5 separate regions of the Homo sapiens genome follow, and all the other regions are reported to be linked to region 5. Evidence: microRNA targets listed by miRTarBase, many of them from high-throughput screens and not tested one by one. Region 5 holds a microRNA gene; each other region holds the end of a gene's coding sequence.
Evidence for each region. Region 5 holds the annotated microRNA hsa-miR-4799-3p (ACUGGCAUGCUGCAUUUAUAUA, at 1,896-1,917, shown strand). A microRNA usually pairs through its seed, bases 2 to 8, with sites in the 3' UTR of a target mRNA and lowers its output. Matches are read on the target gene's strand: a 7mer-m8 pairs with bases 2 to 8, a 7mer-A1 pairs with bases 2 to 7 and ends in A, and an 8mer does both.

Region 1 (4,000 bases), not on the chromosome of region 5:
GCTCCACAGCCTCATGAAACATTAGAGCCAGAGCAACTTAGCAGTTAAGTTCAACTTCTCTTCAGATGAGGAGCCGAGGCCCAGAGAGGCTATGATGTGTCAAACAACACTCATTTAGTGACAAGATTAAAACTTGCTTCTTTCAGCTTCCAGTCTCATGCTCATTCCACCAAGGCCAGGCTGCCCTGAGCCATTTACGTGTGAGGTTTCCCTTTTTAAAAAACTGTTTCTTTCCAGATGAATGAATTAGGTTGAATGCATAATAACATCACTGGTAAGAACTGGAGGTATTTGTGGCAGTAACAAAGCAAGCCTAGGTGGGACATACGACCCCAGTTTCCAAAATGCCTTCGATAAGATGATAGTGAAAAGTTGTCAGTCTATGCTGCTTTTCAAAAACAGGATTTGACACAATTTACAAGGAAATAAGATGAAATTAAATAAATATAGGTTGGGGTAGTTGGTTGAGGTGGGCTGTAAGTTTTGTTGAACTTTCCAGCAGCCAGAACAAAGAGAGAAAAAGCAGCTTAAGTTACAAAAATCACAGTGTTTGTAATACATACATACAGATCTACACACACATGTAGACGTGTGTGTGTACACATACTGCGCTTAGGATCAGAGCTTTCCTTGGCACTGAGATCTAGATAAAAAAACCTTTTTCTATGAATCTTCATAAAGGCAATGTTATGTGATCTAAAAGACACATTGGTCAGAACATGATTATTCATTTTGACTTACATGTACCAGGTGAAAACAAATAAAATGCAGGGAGACAGGTAGTGTTGGTCTAAAATGGGGGGGAGACCTTCCATTTCTTCAGAACAAAGTTCATCAAATTAATGTAACACATGTCTAGACAGCCCATTTACAATTAGGAGTAGAGATAGGGGAACCCAAATTCCACCTCAGCTTGCTCCCAGGCATATGAGAGTTAAACAGAATCAGTTTGTCCCACTAGAGAGGGAATGGGTCTTGCTTGACCCTTTCCTGCCACTGGGGAAGGTTGAGAGATGAAGGTACAGAATATGATTCTGGGCAACTTAGCGCAACTCTTCTGCAGGGGAAGGTGATGTTCTCATGACTGAGCTCCTGGCCTTCTGTAACTGCCATGGTGTAAGTGGCCCCAACTTTTGCTGTGATGCTTCCTCTATCAAACTGTGAGTTCCTTGAGCCCAGGCACCATGCCCCTTCCTTCCTTTTTCTATCATTCACTGTGGCTAGAACATGGCCTTACATGTAACAGTGCTTCATATTTATGAATAAGTCATCTACTTTCCTGAATCATGCTTCCACATAATATCAATCCTGTGTACATATTATTAAGTGGTGATTTCTATTAATTTACATCTTCTCTAGAGCTGGAATTCCAGAACATCTACACAATATAAACACAAGCCCACTGGCACCACAAACATCTTACTGTGCTACGCACACTACCAACATGGAACTGTACTTAGCATTAGAAATCTATAACTTGGACAACACAGAAAAATCAACCTATTGAGATGTGAACAGTCATAATATTTCCAACAAATGTAAATCAGAAACATTTATCAATGTCTACCTGAGTCACCTGCCTTCCAACAGGCCACACCCTATTCTGGCACCATAAATTAGATTTCTTTCTACAGTGCCTACCCTCCTAGGTACTTTGCTGAACAAGTTTCAAAAGATTGAAACATACCAAAAGGAAAAATATCATTTCCAGATGGCTTCAAATAAGAGCATTTGACAAAGAAAGGGAGAGAGAAGAGCAAAATAATCACCCACAAACAGCCCTAACTCCGGTTCCCTTCCCATTAAACTTGTGACTTCTCCCTTGCCAAAGCAAAGCCACCCTGGGTCACCTACATACTAAGGGAATAAACGCCACTGACTCCATCCTGAAGCAACTGGCCATGGAAAATCAAATCTCTGGGTTTCATCTGTAACTTCAAAAGTCAATTAACCATCCCCCATCAGAACTTTTCCTTCAGTGTTTACTGGGTTACTGCCGGGGGTTCTCAAAGAGATTTTTCAGACAAAACAAGTAAATGAGGAAAACAAAAACGGTGTTCTGGATTTCTGGATTGAAGTTTTTATAAATGTTCCCACTTTTCACCCAGTGAGCTCTAGAGTTGTGTTAAGTTACTTGGCACACTACAGTTAGGTTTCTGATGCGGTGAACAGGGACTAGAAGCCTCAGGAAAAGAGACTGGGAGATTTAACAGCCAGACCTGAGAGCGCTGGTCTAAGCTGAGGTGGCTATCTGATCGACAGCAGGCCAAAGGAGTCCAACTGGTCTTAGAAATGCTTCAGGTGTCTATTACCTCTTCCCTATCCCCTTAAAGTTTTAGAAACACTATTATAATATTATACTGCAGTGCAGGGGTGGGAGGTACGAAATATGCCAACATGCCAGTCATGTTCTAGATAAGAGCCAGAGAAGTTAGAGGATAGAACTAGAACGCATCTGAAATCCTACTTTGCTTTAGTGAGACACACCACGAGCAGGCCTCCTATTCTATCTGAGGAGGGCATGGTAGTTCGGAAGAGGCCGGCAGGAGCACCCAGAGCAACTGAGAGGCAAGTGCAGGGCTATGAGAAACAGTAGGAGGACCTGGGATTACTTATAGGCTGGAGAAGCAGCAGCCAGGGGATTTAAGTCTTCGGGTACAGAAAAGGATGAGGGGTGATCAATTGCTTCTCACCTCCATGGAGGGCAAGGCATTAGTAACAGGATTTCAGTGACAATACAGGGATTCTGCCCTAGCTATTTGGATCAACTTCTTGACAAAAAAAAAAAAAAAGGTACACTGTAACAGACTTCTGAGGAAAGCTATAAAATCTTCACTCTTCTTTTGTGGATCTCTTCAAAACCAAGATGGATTTGATGTAGTTCCGATCAGACTCCTCAAAGTTCTATCTAAATGTGAAAATCTGTTATCAAGTTTCATCCAGGATCTCACGGAGTAGGTAATAACAACAAAAAAACTTTTGGCATTTTTTATATCCTTGAAGACAACTCTCACCCATATGGAAGATCTTGAATGTTGCCGAACTTAGCAATCCAGTTGCAGTGGCCTCAATGTACTGAAGGGTATTTCATTCTGAACTCGGACAATGTATCTTCGCCACATTCTTAAAGGAGAAGCTGAGACACACAGAAGAGGAGGAACAGACTGATGAAGTTAGAGGCAGAGGTGAGAACAGGATGAAAGTGTTTAGTTTATTTATATTCTCAAGTTTATCTTGGAAATTACACTTCATAGCTAAGAAAAGATTGCTTCCAAGAATGAGATTAGGGTAAAATGGCTAAGGGGGCATTTAGGAAGAGAAGATCATCATCAAAAAGTTTTCCTAAATTCATCAGTCTTTCCCTTATGTGGGTTCTCAGGGCAATACAGAGATGGAGGGTGTGGCAGAGGCTTTTCTCTCACATGAACTTCCCGATGTTTGGTAAGAACAGAACTCTTACTGAAACGTTTGCCACACTGGGCACATCCATAGGGCTTCTCTCCAGTGTGTATTCTCCGATGTTCTCGAAATCTCGTACAGTTATTGAAACTTTTTTCACAGTCCACACATTTGTAGGGATTCTCCCCAGTGTGAACTCTCCGGTGGGCGCTGAAATGAGAACTGTTGGTGAAACTTTTCCCACACTCTCCACACTGATAGGGCTTCTCACCGGTGTGCGTTCTCTGATGTATAATAAGACTAGAGCTCTGACTAAAGCATTTTCCACACTCTCCGCATCTGTAGGGTTTCTCTCCTGTGTGGATTCTCTGGTGGGCACCAAAATTTGAGGAGTCATTAAAGCTTTTTCCACAGTCAAGACATTTAAAAGGTTTTTCGCCTGTGTGGATTCTTTGGTGTCTGATCAGGCTCCTGCTTCTACCAAAGCACTTCCCACAGACACCACACTTGTAAGGATTCTCCTTGTGGTGGGTCATCCGGCACATCAGACGAGTGCTCCTTCCAAAGCTTTCTCCATATTTGAGAAGTCTGTAGGGTCTCT
Region 2 (4,000 bases), not on the chromosome of region 5:
CTTATTGGTAATAAGTTGCTTTATGCTTTAGCATAAAGTAAAATGTCAGAATTTATAAGGTCAGTGGATAGTAACTGTTTGAAAAATGACTAATGTGCATATTTTAAGTGTTTGTTGTGGGGGATGAGGAGGAGGGAACAGAGTTAGTATTTCCTAGCAAAAGCATAAAATTTCTTCAGTATTTGACTAAAATACATCTGGTGGGTAGCATTGTGTTCAATAAAATAATTATTTTGTCTGTAGTTACACTTCAGTCACTAATTTTCTTAAGTAGGAAAATGTTTTTAAAAACTGTTTTGAGCAGAAGTATTATACAAAGTTTAATGTGAAGATTTATTTTTCTAGCTTCCAGAAATGTTGCATGGTGATGGTGACAATGAAGAACATGGCTTTTGTCCTGTGGGGCAATTCATCCTTCAGAATTTAGGATTGCTCTTTGGATTTGCCATTATGCTGGTGATTGCCCTCTATGAAGATAAAATTGTGTTTGACATCCAGTTTTGACCTTTCCCAGTAATCACTGTTGATTACGAGAATGTTACCATGCAGCTTTGCATCTGTTCCTTGTACTGTATGCACATTGCTCAAAGGAAAGTCAGTGGCTTGCACTACTTACAAGTTTCATAGATTTGAGCCTAACCACAAGAGGCTGGTGCTTAGTACTGTTTTCCCTGCACGTAGGGGTCTTTTAAAAATATAAAGCTTGTGATAAAGAGAGGAGAATATGGGACTCCATGAACCAGTGTTGATATGTTTGATTAAGACTTTTCACAAAATAATCATATAAAACACTAGTCTCTTTATTAGTAGAAACTTCTGTGGCTATGCAGAAATAGAGATCGAACCAAAAAAAATCATTTAAACTTTAAAAATATTTTAAATGGACTTTGGGGAGACATTTTTTGTGTGTTTTAAGAATGAATTGTAGTGCTCTTTAATTCAGCTACATATATTCATGTGGTGATAGGGATCAACTTGACACAACTTTGAAACTGCATAAAGTAGACATAGGAACTAGAGGAAAGCTCAGGCTGCATTAGAGTATGAATTTAGCATTGGGAAAAGCCCTTATTCTTGAATCTAGAGTTACTATTTTTGTATATATTTGCATAGTGTTTAAACCTGCAGCCTAAACTACTGAAATTTGTGATTGTATGTTTGTGTGAGCTTCAGTTTAATGAAAGATTCATAATGGTTCTTTGTATTATTATAATACTTGGTGTTGGGGTGTTCTTTCTGTTTTGTTTTTTACTTTAATTTTGTTTTGATTTTTTTTTTTTTTTTTTGGCGGGGGTAGGTGAGGGTTTGGAGCATGTGGTCTTTTTAAAAAATTGTAACCCTCTAGAAAATATCAAAGAAATGAACCAGACGTGGTTTAAATAGTTGATTTTCCTATTTTAACAGTACCAACTAGTTAATTGGGAAATGTAAGTTCTGAATGTTCACATTGCTTTACCAGTTTGGCACTGGAACCAAGAGCACATGTCGTGGCTGGCTACAAGGTTGTAAAGCAGAAAATCGAAGTTTACCATGTCTGTAATGTGTACATGAAGTGTCAATTTAGAACAGTTACTAGGATAAACTCCATTATTGCCATGGCTGTCATGGTACCCAAGTGACTTGGAAGATGCATTTAAATTACTCAGCTGAAATCACTTGATCATCTTGTGCCAAGATATGCTGTTGGTGCCTGATAGGGATTAGTCTTTTAGGTGCCCTGTTCTCCTACCATAATTGTGAATGATTTGTGAGAAGTGCAAGCCATGTTTATCCTGAATTTTTACTTAATAATTTGTATTACTAGTCATATGCATGTAGCTTTCTGTTTACATCCTATGCCACATGGTCTTCATTTATGCCAGGTAAACTGTATTTGAACTATGTGCAGCTAGCTTTGTTTTAATCTGCTTGGCAACCAGTGTAGCTGCTGTAACAATCTATCTTATTGTTCAAATATATAAGAGCCAAACTCTTTTCCATTCCATCTAAAATGTTTTCATTTAGTACTCTTCTTTCCTCCTACTCTATGAACTTCAAAACAAAAACAAAACTTTGAGAGCAGCACATGCATCCAGGTATTTATAGATTATTGCCAGTGTCTTTTCTGTATGCTATAAGCAAGGGAGCTTAGGTGTTATTTCTTTAATTTATGCTTGAATCTGAAAAATTATTTCTGACTTACTCCATGGCCTCCTTATAATAAGTAGAAGTTTTATATATAATTAATTTTCAGCATTGGGCACTGAATTAGGACAGTCCTCATCTCATTGCTTGGCCCTTCAAGCAACCTAGCTAAAAGGTGCTGATATTTTATTTAGTACTGCCAACTTCAAGTGATTTAGATATCTATCTATCTAGATTTCTGAACCAAGATATATTTATAGTTCACTTTTGGGTTTTTATACCCACGGTAGGATTCTGCATTCCAGCATTAAATCTGCTTCATTTTAGAACCTTTATAAAAGCAATAGCTGGAATATACTCCCAGTTTTAAAATAAATGCCTGATTGATTTAAAGCAAGTAGGTTATGCTGAAGTATATAAAGAAGTTTTATATTCTCTCAAAAATGGTATTATCTTTCTTTATTTGCTAGATTCTTACAAATCTTTTAAGAGGGCTGTAACAGTTGCTGCTAGTATTAGGGTTCCACATCATTCTAATGTATAGTTTCAAGTCTTAATAGACAATCTGAATTCCACTACATTTCTTTTGGCTCCAACATTCCTTTTAGCTTGACCAGTCTAATTTAAAATGTGTTTGTTGGAGGTCATTAACGTTACTTGTACAATGCTGTCACTGTGTGACATCCATATGAATTTTGGTATATATCAATCAATCAATCAATCACATTGCATTCAATCAATCAGCTGTGATTGATTGATTATGCTTAGAAATACTATAGTAACTAGATGCAGTGTGAATTTTTTCCATTAACAAACAAACAAGTCAGTGGCTTAAATGTGATTATGGTCCTGCAAGGTGATTCTTGCTAAAATATCTAAACTTTTGTTTTGTTTTAACTGAATCATTTTTTAACTTAAAAAGCTGGAAAATATCAAATGCTGTTTTTTTTTTTTCATTGTCAACAGTGGTGTGTCATTTTATGTATGTTCCTAATGCTTATGGAACTCCTCCAAAATAAAGTTACTCAAAGAGAGCAAATATGCCAGTGTGTTTTCTTTAGTCTTTATTTCAGAACATTTCCTTACATTTAAGTATGAGTCATATTAAGTTTAGCTGCATTTGCTCATAAGTAAATTCATAATTATAACTTTAGTCAAATGTATTTAAACAAACAAAAAAAAAGGTTTAAGTAGTAAAATATGCTTTCTCTACTCAGCCAGCCAACAAGAAATAGGAACAAGGAAATGATGTCTTCTGGTTATGAATTAAGTTGACATAACAGTGCTACACCTCGTCCAATCCAGTGTTCCTTGGGTTGGTCAGAGGGAAGAGTCATGGCAATCACAAAATTCGTGGAATGGCCAGTGGTGGATAATACTCCTCTCCGCTCACTTGTCTTATACAATGGAGCAACATAACTTGGCCGTTTTGGTATATCTGCCCTCTTACAGGGCTTTAGCCACATCTGGAAGAAAGTACATAACACCTCTTTAAGTCAAGGCTGTTTGTTAAATGTACATGTGTTTGAGCCTACTATAGTATTCTCAGAGTAAGGTTATGCATGCAGATTTCTGTGGCCCAAATTTATTTTCACCAGCAGTGTTGTTGTGATTGCTCAAAACATTTTATAGAACTCTCATAACTGAAAAAAATAGTTTTCGCCTTCTCTTTCTAAAAGCATATTTTCTACCTATTTATCTCTCACTCAGCCACAATTACCTGGGAAATGACTTTTAGTGCTTACAATGATAAAAAAAAAATCAGATACACTTTCAAAGGAGAGAATTGCCACACTGATACTGAGAATCATGTGCCTTTATATTAATTGAAAGCCAGTCCCAAAAAATTCTGAAGGGATTTTTATCAACAGCTGTA
Region 3 (4,000 bases), not on the chromosome of region 5:
GGCATAAGGACCAACCCCTAACCTTAAATGGGATTTTAGGCTGCAAAAAAAATAGGTTGGGTTTCTTACAAAAATAACCTCAACTTGACTTAAAAAAATTCGAAGGCAAAAATTATTTTGATAGTGTAGTGTAAAAAATAGGCTTATTTAGCATTTAGTAGTGTTCTCTAAAAAACATAACATTGTATTAATTAAACTAAGGAAAACAGTATTCTCACTTATAATTGGTTTGTCAGTATGACTATTCCCAGAGTATTTTCTTTTGCTCCTATTTTTATACATATAAACACAATAATCAATCTCAGTATTCAAACTAACAACTTTTTTTTTTTAAAAAAATCCATTATTCTAGGACTTCAACTGTGCTTCTTTGGACAAATAGTTATTCAAGCAAGAAAGAATTTAAAGTCTTTTAAACTATTTAATACCTACTAAAAATCTTTGGTGCATTTAAGTCAAAACCCATTAGATTAACACATTCCTGCACTTGATAAATTATTCAATTTACAGATTAAGTGCTAACTGCTATCTGCTAAAAAATTAATTTAAAACAATAAATTATGCTCACAAAATAAAAAAATTCTGAATGAGGCTAAACTTAGTTGCAAGATTCAAAATTTTAAGTACAGTTACAAAATAAATGGATTAGAGTTATAGAGCATTTGTCCAAAATACTCTAAATCAAATATTACAAAAGGTCAACTGAAAAGAATAGGCCTCCTTTTATACTTTTTGTGCCAACTTTTGTCAAAAGCCTATATACATTCAGTTTGCCCAAATCCATGAGGTTTTCACAATTGTAAAATTTCTTACATTTTTGGAAATTAGAGGCAGCAGATTAGTTTCATTTTGTTTTTGTTGTTGTTGTTTTCAATCATCCACTGAAACTATTACTTCACCAGAATTATATTACGCATCTCCCAGACTAGGTTAAGATTAAATGACAGGATGTAGTACCTGGCACATAGTAAGCATTCATTAATGCTAGCTTTCTTCTTTCCCTACTAGTAGCTCTGCCACCTACTGACCATGTGAGCTTAAATGAGTCCTTTTATCTTAACCTCAAATTCTTTATAAAGTGGGAATATAGCTTGTTTTTACTATTTCAGGGCTGGTTATGAGGTTCAAATGAGATAACATATATGAAAGCATTTTATAAAACAGTAAATCACTACTCAAGTTTAAGTTATCTACAATAGTAACTAAATACAATTATATTATTATATTTCACTTTACTAAGAGATGTATTCCAAAAAAGTTCTGTGTAAACCAATTCCTACAATTAAATCATATATTTAAAGCATTAGGACGGACATTATTATTAAAAGAACCCTAAAGTAAATACCTTCAAAAATCAAAGTATTCTTTTCAATGTGAAAATGCAGTATCTTCTTTTTCTGCCACCAAATGTATAATATACCATATACATACATGTATATAAATATATATATACTATCTGCCTTTTTATAAGTCTAAACTTTTCTACATTAGCTTATATGTAAGGCAGGCTACATTTTTATGTATGATTTCTTTCATTATAGTAAGATTTTTAGTTATAATATTGCCAGTCTTTATGATGAAAATCATAAAGATATGTATTTTTAAAAGTCAATTTGAAAGACTAACAGACTAACAGTACCTCATATAGTCAACCTCAATCATGTAAGTACCCCAGATATAACATTTCCACACAAAGAAATAAGAATACTTTAAAAAGGAGAACATAGTAAGTATGTCCACTAGTCTTAAGACAATTACAACCAAACCTTGACAAATGAGGCTAAACTCAGATTGGTTTTATTATTTATATGAGCTACTTTGGTTAACTGCCTCAGTTTTCAATATTTCTTTTGTTTTACCTCCGCTAGTATGGCGAATGTTGCTGTAAAGTACCTTTATTTCTTAAGTGCTTCAGCGACAGTTTCCGCCATTACTAATTGATTAAACTTTATTCATTAAAACTTCACTGTTTTATTTGTGATTTTTTTTTTCACAAGGGCTGGGCTAGACTTTACAGTTTACACACACAAAAAAAGTGCTTAAAGCAATTAGGAGTGTAAACAAAACTGAAATAGAAAACTTTTAAAACTGCTATTTTCTACTAGTTTATGTACAAATGACATGCTAATAATAAATCAACCCTGTCTAGTCTAATCTTCAAGCAACTCTACTAGGAAACATTATCTTAGTTTTTAGTTAAAATTGACTTGAAAATATGGAAAGTGCATGTCTTTAAAGGTATTTTATAATTTTGACTTTTTCCTCAATTGTAATCACTGAGGTTTTGCTGTAACTGCTATTTCCTTTCACCAAGTCCTCAACTTTTGTCTCATACAGAAATAAAAATTAAAGGTTAATTACAGACATTAGGCTTTTGTGAAGGCAAAATTAAAGATCTGGATTGCATGTAAATCTGTATATAAGTAGTGGTTCCATTTAATTAAACAATGTTAAGTTAAATTAGGCACAAATTTCATAATCTGTTTGGCACCTTTTCTAACAATTGAACACAAAATATCTAGGTTCTGTTTCCCAGAGTTTCTATCAGCCAAGTAAATGAAATCAAAAGTAGCATGTTTAATTAAATTTCATTGAGTTACAACTGCTCTTTTCTTAGTGAGATGAAGACATATGCTATGTTGTATTGTCAACATTTCTGAAATAAATAGTAAAGTACAAAAGGTGAACTTACCTTGAAAAACATCTAGTTAAAACTCTCATATTTTTCTTGTAACACATTTTCAGTTTGTATAATTTAATGCCCAGACCTATGTTTGCCTTTCTTATTCATAACAATTGAAGTATAGGCAAAAACCAATTATCTGGATTATTATTTCAGTCCTACAAATAATAGCTAATCTTACATTAGTTAAGCTTTCTGGCTTTGAGTATATCAAAAGTCCAAAGGATAATGATAACCTAAAATTATGTATGAATGGAAAGACAACACAGAAATATCCAAGGCATTCTTGTAAATTCAAATTCCTAATTTCAATTTTAAAAATTTGTATAACGTAATATTGAATCTTAGGATAAGAAACAGTTGCAATTATCAGTGTACTCTTAATTCCTTCTTAAAGGCTACATGGTCCTCAAACTTGTTTGTAAGAAGGGCTAGGAAGAAGAAGGAGAGGAATGAGACTAAAGAAGAATAAAAATTTCCACTGATGATTAAAAAAAATACTTCCATAATATCAGCAGCTAATAATTGCAAAAAATTTAAGAAACCATTAAAAGTTAGCACTAAATAATCTTTAAAAATCACAAAAATGTGCACTTCAAATATTATGCCAGAAATTTTGTCCAAATATTCATGTTCAGTAAACAGAGACACATAGTTTTCTTGATTTGAAACTGTTCTGAGGACTTGAGAAACTAGAGAAAACAAGAAAATAGCAGCCCCACAAATTTAAAAGCTATCATCTCTACCATTAGCATATAACCATCCAAAAATCTGTGGAATGTTTAGATTTACTCATGAATGATGCTCATTCGTAGAAATATTTTGAACACCAGTAGTGCTATCAAGGCCCAGTAATGTTCCAAGATAAGATTGTTCTCTAGGATCTAGCATTTGTTCAGGTCGAACTGGGTGAACTATATTTGCAGGTTGAGGAGTAAGAGTATATTTTTCCAGAAAAGCTAAATCCGCTGCTCGTGGATAATCAGTTGACTGTGGCTGTGGTGACAGAATCTCATGAGAAGATGGTGGGAGTGTGGTAGTATGACGCACTAGGTCACTCGGAGTGTCAGGCATCTGAACTGGAACCAGAGTTACTGGAACACATACTTCAGCAGATACATTCTGTAACATCGTCTTGGCTTCCGACTGATAAACTTTGGGCTGGTCCATATATTGTTTTGTTTCTGTTTGAAAGATTTTGTCATCAGATGAGTACTCAACTGGCAAGGATACAAGTTTTTCCTCAGAAGTACTGAGAGGATCATCAGGAGATTTTATTTCATGAACATGGTCAATGTGGTATTTCAGCTTGTCTTT
Region 4 (4,000 bases), not on the chromosome of region 5:
ACTCCTGGAGATCAGGCCCAGACCCCGGGTGTTCTCAGGGGACACACTGTGGACGGTGGACCAGTTCCTAGCGCCGTTTTGTCCCCCATTGCCCCTGCTGCTTGTTAAAAGTATTAGCGACCCCCGTGATGGCAATCCACAATTTTTGGAGGGTGCGGGTGGCATGTACGGACGTGAAGGTCTCTTTGTGAGGCACGTCCACGCACACACAGGGACACTCATTTTGTAAAACCTAGATGGGCGCTGCCACCACCCCTCCATGCCACCCGCGTACCAATCAAGGATGCAGGTTGTAGAAAACACCTGGACGTGTGTGGGCTGCACCTTAAAACAGAATTCACCCAGTAGGCACTCCCAAATCCAAATAAAGTGCGTAGGGTGCTTTGAGACTTGGGGGGAGGGGTGTTAAAAAGTTACTTGTAAACAATACATTTAAGGTTATTTTCAAGTGAATGTTTAAAGTGCTGCCTGCTCCAAGCTCTAATAACACATTAGTGCGATAATAACACTCCTTGCATCTGCCAGGAGCCCTCCAACTGGCTGCCAGAGGTTCCACGAGGTTCGCGGTGGTTGGTGTAGGCGAAGGCTACTAAAAGGGGCGAAAAAGAACCCAAAGCCATGCCTGTGGGGTTTGCCAGCGCCGACCCGCTCCTCGCCAGCGCCCGCGGCCAAGCGGACCCGGCCTTCCGAAGGAGCCATCTTGCGCGCAGCAGCAGCAGCGGCTGAGCCTGAGCCCCTAAACAGCTGCAGAGGTGTGACAGGTTTATTATGCTGGGCCTAGCTCGCTCGCAATTCCTTAAAGACAAAGGGCAGCAGAGAGAGCCCGCGACGGGGCCTGGCCTACCCGGGTTCCACGCACCTCCTGCACAAACTCGGGCAAGATTGCTTTGCCATGGTATGTGAGTTTAACTGAAGGTTTAACTTTCTCAGTTTTTCCTTAAAAATATCAAGGTGGAAGATGTTTTGTAACATTTGAAACCAACAGCCAAAGTCTGGCAGAGCAGGAAAAAATAAGTTTACTGAAATTTAATTGAGATTTAAGATAGAAGAAACCCTGTAATAAGAATTGTCTTGAAGGATGTCCAAATGAATTTCTCTCATAGCACAGAAATAGATAAAAAATGCCGAAGTAAATCGATTCTCCTTTTCTCCTTTTAAACCACATACACCAGGAAGCCAAATGAACTCCCGCTCCTTCCATTACTCAGGGTGCAGGAGCAGTGAGAAGGTTGCAACCAAAAATACTTTTTAGTTTCCTTCAAACATGGATGCTGCCATCCGTTTGGAGAAGTAGAATTCAACATCATGGCTCAACTGGAGCTGCATAAACCCCTGCCTAGAATCTCTCCTGATTCTAGGTGTCCAAACAAGCAACACTGAATTAAACAGGGCCATGGCAAGCCTGAGGGCCCCTGGAATAGTCTCTCCTGGGTGTGGGAAGGGAGGTTCCGGTGGTCAGAGGAGAGGGGGTGCCTGCCCATCAGGGTCAAGGCTAAGAGGAATGTGACTCTTTGTGAGATTTGTTGGAGGATGTGTGTGACAGTGGGTTTGGGAGTTGGGTTTGCAAGTGTTTGTGAGAATGTGTGACTGTGAGATGGCATGTTTGTGGAGTGTATGTGCACTTGTGAATGGATGTGCATGGATGTTTGTGTTCGAGCCAATGTGTGAGTATGTATCTGTGTGTGTGCCCACTATCCCGCCCAGGCTGAGGCCCGGCCTCCCAGCAACCATGTGTTTCCAATTAGCAGCATCCCGCCTGGGAGTGCAGAGAAGGCGAGTCCTGGGACAGCTTCTGAGGAGCGGGTGGGCTAGCTCAGGCCCCCCAGTTCTGCTCCATCGAGGGCGAGGCCGCCCGGCCAGCAAGCTTTCACAGCAACTGGGCAGCCACACAAAGAGCCCTCTCTCCTGCGCCAGTCGTTGGAGACTCGGTCCTCCCCCAGATCATAAACCTGCCTGTGAAGACGTTCAGAAATAGTTTACCCGCACTCACACACACATGTGCAAAGGCTGGAATTCCATTTGCTATAAAGTTTTATTTTATTTTGCTTGGAAGGGGAGTGAGGGGGAGAAGTGTCCTGACCTAATTTGTTCTAGGGCAAAATACTGTATTTCATGTGGAGGTATACACCTGTACATGAATCCTTGCTTGCTGCCTGTGGGTGTCCTGCACATGTGTGCGTCAGCCTACCTGTAGCTGTACACCATACACAGCTCAGGAGCACACACCTGTGGTCTTACCCAGGCCACCTAAATGATGCATGCAAACAAACCAGATCCAGAGATCTGAGGCTGAGCCTTAAACCTTTTTATTATAGCTTCAAATTAACGCTGATGTCGTTCAAGTGCATAGCACAATGTCTGGCATGTATTAGGCACTTAACATAAATGGCTGAATGAATACATTAAACTGAGATTTAAAAAGTGACCTAGTAGTCATAAGAAGAGGCTGCAAATAAGCACTGTGTAAAAGATTCTAGACCACAAGGAAAGGCACAGGCTCAGAGACCTCTAGGTAACTTGGTGGCTTTGCCATGGAATGTTCCAACAGTATTTGCTTACCTTCAAGTTTCTTCTTCTGACCCCCCTCTATTTCTCAAGACTTCTTTTTCAGATGGGTGAGAGCCCTTGGGTTCTAATTATAGTCAGCAGAGACCAGCCAGGGTGTGAATTCCTCCCTTCTGCAGGAACTAGGTTTCCAGAGTGACTTGTCACCAGGAGGGGGAAAGAAATGTCCCAGGCAAAGACTAAGGAGGAGGCTCGCCGGAGCACCCCCGCCCCCCTTAGCCTTGCAGGAGTCCTCCCACCAAGGGCTTTCTCAAAACAGGGCAAGGCCTGACCACAGCGATCTCATTCCAAGGCCTGGATTGTGGGGTTGTTTGGGGACCCCTATAGCCGTGTTCATAACTTGGGAGAAAACATCCACACTGACCCTGTGAATGCTAGTTCACAGAAAGACCATTTTTAATATGAAAAGAGAAAAACAATTTGAAGGCCCCACAATTTGTTGTGTAACAACATAATTTCAAGTAAAGTGAATGTGATTAAAACATCTTGATTTCACAAAGCCATTCAGAGGAGGCTTCGACAAACGCAAAGCGACCCAAACCCTGGAGGGTCACATCCCGGCTGCTACAAACCTCGGCGGGGCGGCCCCGCTCTTGCGGCCGGGACAGCGCAGCGGCAGCAGGGGCCGCAGGGGACCCGCAGATTGGCACGCCGCTCCCCATCCCCGCAGCGCGTCTGCACCGGAGACTCTGCGGGGATTGTAGCCGGAGGGCGGGCCGGGCTCCGAGGCGCTGCTCAGGCATTGGGGTTTGTCCTCATGAGCTCCACGTCGGCGTGCACCATCTCCCTCACCAGCTCCTGCAACACAGGGGTGGGCGTGAGGGAGGAGCTTCTGCCACTCTCTCCTGGTGACACCCCACCCCGGGTGTCGGCCCCAGAGAGGCCTCCGCGTCCCTCGTTCCAGCTCCCCTCACTTCTCCCGCACCCCGCCTTCCGGGCTTTGGGCATCGCAGGCGCCTCAGGCGCCCGACCCTGAGAGCTGCCGCCCTGCAGCCCGGGGCCCCGCAGCGGGCGGCGTGCGCCCTAAGAGATACTCACATCGAAAGCGACCCGGGGCTTCCAGTTCAGCTTCTGTTTCGCTTTGGTGCAGTCGCCCTGCAGAAAGTCCTAGGGAAGAAGAGGGGGAGACGAAGCAGGCGTGGGTCGTGGGGGTGGGGGCAGCAGGTCCCGAGCCCCGGGAACTCCCACCGTTCCGCTCCCTCTGGGCGCACAAGGCTCCGGGTTTCCCTGCTTTCGGTCCCTGCTGTGCGCGTTCAGTTGCGGCTCTCGGCGCCGTAAATCACTAGGTCGCGGTTAAGAATGTGCTGTGCGGACCCGTGAGGACCGTGACCGCGATCCACCCCCAGCTACCTCCACACCTCTTCTCCCCAAGGCGTCCCTTGGGCTCTTAATGCTTTTTTTTTTTTTTTTTTTTTTTTTTTATAACATGAAGTTG
Region 5 (4,458 bases):
CCATGGGGTGACAGAAAAGGCAAGTAGTAACAGAACTTGAGACACAGCAGGGTGAGCAGGTACCTAAAGGAGTGCTGCCGGCATGGCATCCTCTGAGAGCAAGTCCACCTAGGGTGGACTGGGCCAAGGGAAGATGCCTCACTAGGCTGGTATCATCAATTTTGTGTGGGTTAAGCCATTTGTCCTCCACCTCCCACTTTTGGGAGAATGAGAGAAGACGCTCCAGAGAATGAGAGAAGACGCAAGGGCTCAGATTTGCATTTGATGGTGGGAAACTTAACCCTATAGATTTAGGGAGTAACTGTTAGTGACCTAACCTAGGACTACTGGCGGGGCCGGGCAAGGTGATTCACGCCTGTAATACCAGCATTTCGGGAGGCTGAGGCGGGCGGATCACGAGGTCAAGAGATCGAGACCATTCTGGCTAACATGGTGAAACCCCGTCTCTACTAAAAAATACAAAATTTAGCTGTGCCTGTAGTCCCAGCTACTCAAGAGGCTGAGGCAGGAGAATCACTTGAACCCGGGAGGTGGGGGTTGCAGTGAGCTAAGATTGTGCCAGAAACTATTGGGGGATAGGTAGGTGTGGCAACCGTTTAATTTTTGACCAAACTGGGACATGATTTCATATTTACATTGGGCTGGACCTGGCAAGCCAGGATGTAGGCTCACCCTACATATGGGGAATATGCAAGTCATATATACACATTTAAAAATACGGGGAGCTACTTTTACATCTTAAATACCGCCTTGTCAAGACCCTCAACTATGTTCATACTATGACATTTTTGTTTTGTTCTCCATTTTTAAAAAAGGGTATAGTAGTCCTTATTATGACTATGTTGCCATACTAAATGTTTTACTAAGAATATCGTTAATGGCTAAGTGTTTCACCTTCTAAATGTACCAGTTTTCTTTCATTTTTTTCTTTTCTTTTCTTTTTTTTTTTTTTTTGAGACAGTCTTGCTCTGTCGCCCAGGCTGGAGTGCAGTGGCGCAATCTCGGCTTAGTTTTCTTTATTAATTGCATACAATTACTAATCTAGATTTCTTTCCAGCTATTTGTTATTATAAGTGATAGCAAAGTACATCTTTACGCGTCAGTATTTCCATAGTTAAATTCTTAGTCAGATTTGTATAATTCTTGATACATATTGCTAAACTCTAGGTATCTATTTTAAATCTGAGTTTCCACATTGGAAAACTGACAGTTGAGTTTCATTGATTTCTGAAATACGGTAAAATAAGTGGCTTTTAAAAAGTCGCTGAATAGTTTTACCGCTTAGTATGTCTCTTGTGACCTTGCCTTGCAAAGGGGTAATATAGCAAAGTAACAACTTGAATGAAGAGAACAGTTTTATTGCTAGTGCAGCATTTGCCACATTGCCATAAGGTGAATGTCCTGCAGAGAGACTGAATCATACTGAATTTAATTGTGGTGGGTGTGTGGGGTTTAGGCATACAAATACTTGACTCTGAAAATTGACAGTTTGGCACAGTATGGTTGAAAGATCATGTATTGGGCGTGTTGAACTACGTTGAGTTTTCATGAGGAGCAAGACTCTATGTCTTTGAAGTTGTGTAGTGTCATGGAGTGCTGGTGGCATTTTCCACATGGCATATGCGTTTTATTATCAGCATGAAATTAATACATTTTCAGGAGTGGGTTCTTCCGGTATGAGTCATTTACTAGTTAGAGAATACTTTGTGGAAACAGTTGTCAGCAGAAAGAGTCGTCTTAACATCAGCAAGAACTAAAGCTGAGAAATCTGCTTTGTGAGAACTGTGTACATCGCTGGGTCAAATGACCTGAAGGTGTTTTGTAAAGCCCTGTGTGGTAATCGGTTCAGTCACTGCTAATATCTAAATGCAGCATGCCAGTCCTGAGATGCAGGGACTGGCATGCTGCATTTATATATTAGCAGTCTGAGATGCCCAGTACTGACTGTGGTACAACTTGTTCTGAGGGGTCAGACCAGTTTGCAAACAGGAAAGAAGAGACTTCTGGAAAATTTATGTGTGTAAAGACTTCCTGGTTAGTTTGACAGCATTCCTGAGTTATTCACAGCTCAGCTAGTCTCTAAAGACTCCAAAGACCCAGGAAAAATTTTCATATATATATAAAAACAACATAAAATATATATAACATATATTACGTATTATATATAATATATAAATTATATAATATATAAAATTATATATTATATAAATTATATATAATATATTAAATTATATATTATATAAATTATATATATTATATAAATTATATACTATATGTTAAATTATATATATAAATTATATACTATATGTTAAATTATATATATTATATAAATTATGTGTTAAATTATATATTATGTAAATTATATGTTAAATTATATATTATATAATTTATATAACACACATTAAATTATATATTGTATAATTTATATAACACATTAAATTATATATTGTATAATTTATATAACACATTAAATTATGTATTGTATAATTTATATAACACACATTAAATTATGTATTGTATAATTTATATAACACACATTAAATTATGTATTGTATAATTTATATAACACACATTAAATTATGTATTGTATAATTTATATAGCACACATTAAATTATGTATTGTATAATTTATATAGCACACATTAAATTATGTATTGTATAATTTATATAGCACACATTAAATTATGTATTGTATAATTTATATAGCACACATTAAATTATGTATTGTATAATTTATATAGCACACATTAAATTATGTATTGTATAATTTATAGAACACACATTAAATTATGTATTGTATAATTTATAGAACACACATTAAATTGTGTATTGTATAATTTATAGAACACATTAAATTGTGTATTGTATAATTTATAGAACACATTAAATTGTGTATTGTATAATTTATAGAACACATTAAATTGTGTATTGTATAATTTATAGAACACATTAAATTATGTATTGTATAATTTATAGAACACATTAAATTATGTATTGTATAATTTATAGAACACATTAAATTATTATATTTATATAACACACATTAAATTATGTATTATATTTATATAACACACATTAAATTGTGTATTATATTTATATAACACACATTAAATTGTGTATTATATTTATATAACACACATTAAATTGTGTATTATATTTATATAACACACATTAAATTGTGTATTATATTTATATAACACACATTAAATTGTGTATTATATTTATATAACACACATTATTATATAATTTATATAACACATTAAATTATTATATAATTATATAACACACATTAAATTATATATTATATATTTTACATAACATTAAATTGTGTATTATATAATTTACATAACATTAAATTGTGTATTATATAATTTACATAACATTAAATTGTGTATTATATATTTTACATAACATTAAATTGTGTATTATATATTTTACATAACATTAAATTGTGTATTATATATTTTACATAACATTAAATTGTGTATTATATAATTTACATAACATTAAATTGTGTATTATATAATTTACATAACATTAAATTATATAATTTACATAACATTAAATTTTATATTACATAATTTACATAACATTAAATTATATATAATTTATAAATTATATAATACATATTAAATTATATATAATTTATAAATTATATAATATAAAGTTATATATAATTTTTAAATTACATAATATATAAGTTATATATGATATATATTATATAATTTATATTTATATATATATTTAATTTATATATAATATATACTGCAAAATATATATAATATAAAACATATATTTTATAGTATATATTATATATATTATGCAATTTATAAAATATATATTATAAATATATATTATATATTTAAAATAGAATAAATATATATTATATATTATAAATATAAAATATATATTATAAAATATATATTATATATTATAAATATAAAATATATATTATAAAATATATATTATAAATATAATATATTATAAAATATATATTATAAATATATATTATAAAATGTATATTATAAATATAATATATTATAAAATATATATTATAAATATAATATATTATAAAATATATATTATAAATATATTATAAAATATATATTATAAATATATTATAAAATATATATTATAAATATATTATAAAATATATATTATAAATATAATATATTATAAAATATATGTTATAAAATATAAAACATGTTATAAAATATATTATGAAATATGTTATATTTTAAAATATATATTATGAAATATATGTTATATATTATAAAATATATGTAATATATATATGCAGTTGATTCCAAGATGATGAAATGTATGGACGACTATTTTCTAAAAAAAAAAAAAAAAAGAATAACATCTAAGCTAAAGGGAAAGAACAGCTCTGAATATTGACTTGTTTAGCTTTCATTAGTACTTAACATTGAAACAGAGTTTTTGAATGTTCAGGCA

Region 1: the mRNA of ZKSCAN2 is a reported target of hsa-miR-4799-3p. Seed matches in the 3' UTR shown: 7mer-A1 at 1,603-1,609.
Region 2: miRTarBase lists SLC39A10 as a target of hsa-miR-4799-3p. Seed matches in the 3' UTR shown: 7mer-m8 at 1,856-1,862.
Region 3: miRTarBase lists ZBTB41 as a target of hsa-miR-4799-3p. The part of its 3' UTR that is shown has no 7-base or 8-base seed match.
Region 4: the mRNA of GMDS is a reported target of hsa-miR-4799-3p. The part of its 3' UTR that is shown has no 7-base or 8-base seed match.

What each region holds. Positions count from the first base shown.
Region 1 is chr16:25,236,487-25,240,486 of GRCh38, forward strand. ZKSCAN2 (zinc finger with KRAB and SCAN domains 2) reads right to left here. Exons shown (of 7, transcript NM_001012981.5): 7 at 1-4,000. The coding sequence ends at 3,330. Among named protein-coding and RNA genes, the nearest start is that of ZKSCAN2-DT, 19 kb to the right of the region's middle.
Region 2 is chr2:195,734,538-195,738,537 of GRCh38, forward strand. SLC39A10 (solute carrier family 39 member 10) reads left to right here. Exons shown (of 10, transcript NM_020342.3): 10 at 346-3,163. The coding sequence ends at 504. It overlaps DNAH7 (dynein axonemal heavy chain 7), which reads right to left. Exons shown (of 65, transcript NM_018897.3): 65 at 3,166-3,590. The coding sequence ends at 3,384. It overlaps LOC107985972 (a long non-coding RNA gene), which reads left to right and starts at 3,585. Exons shown (of 3, transcript XR_001739837.2): 1 at 3,585-4,000.
Region 3 is chr1:197,155,884-197,159,883 of GRCh38, forward strand. ZBTB41 (zinc finger and BTB domain containing 41) reads right to left here. Exons shown (of 11, transcript NM_194314.3): 11 at 1-4,000. The coding sequence ends at 3,476. Among named protein-coding and RNA genes, the nearest start is that of ASPM, 11 kb to the left of the region's middle.
Region 4 is chr6:1,620,869-1,624,868 of GRCh38, forward strand. It overlaps GMDS (GDP-mannose 4,6-dehydratase), which reads right to left. Exons shown (of 11, transcript NM_001500.4): 10 at 3,604-3,672; 11 at 2,938-3,363. The coding sequence ends at 3,301. Among named protein-coding and RNA genes, the nearest start is that of FOXC1, 13 kb to the left of the region's middle. RefSeq lists an enhancer at 3,620-3,729.
Region 5 is chr4:147,780,744-147,785,201 of GRCh38, forward strand. MIR4799 (microRNA 4799) reads left to right here and starts at 1,852; the gene lies at 1,852-1,925. The region is part of intron 1 of ARHGAP10 (Rho GTPase activating protein 10); the gene reads left to right. RefSeq lists an enhancer at 156-205.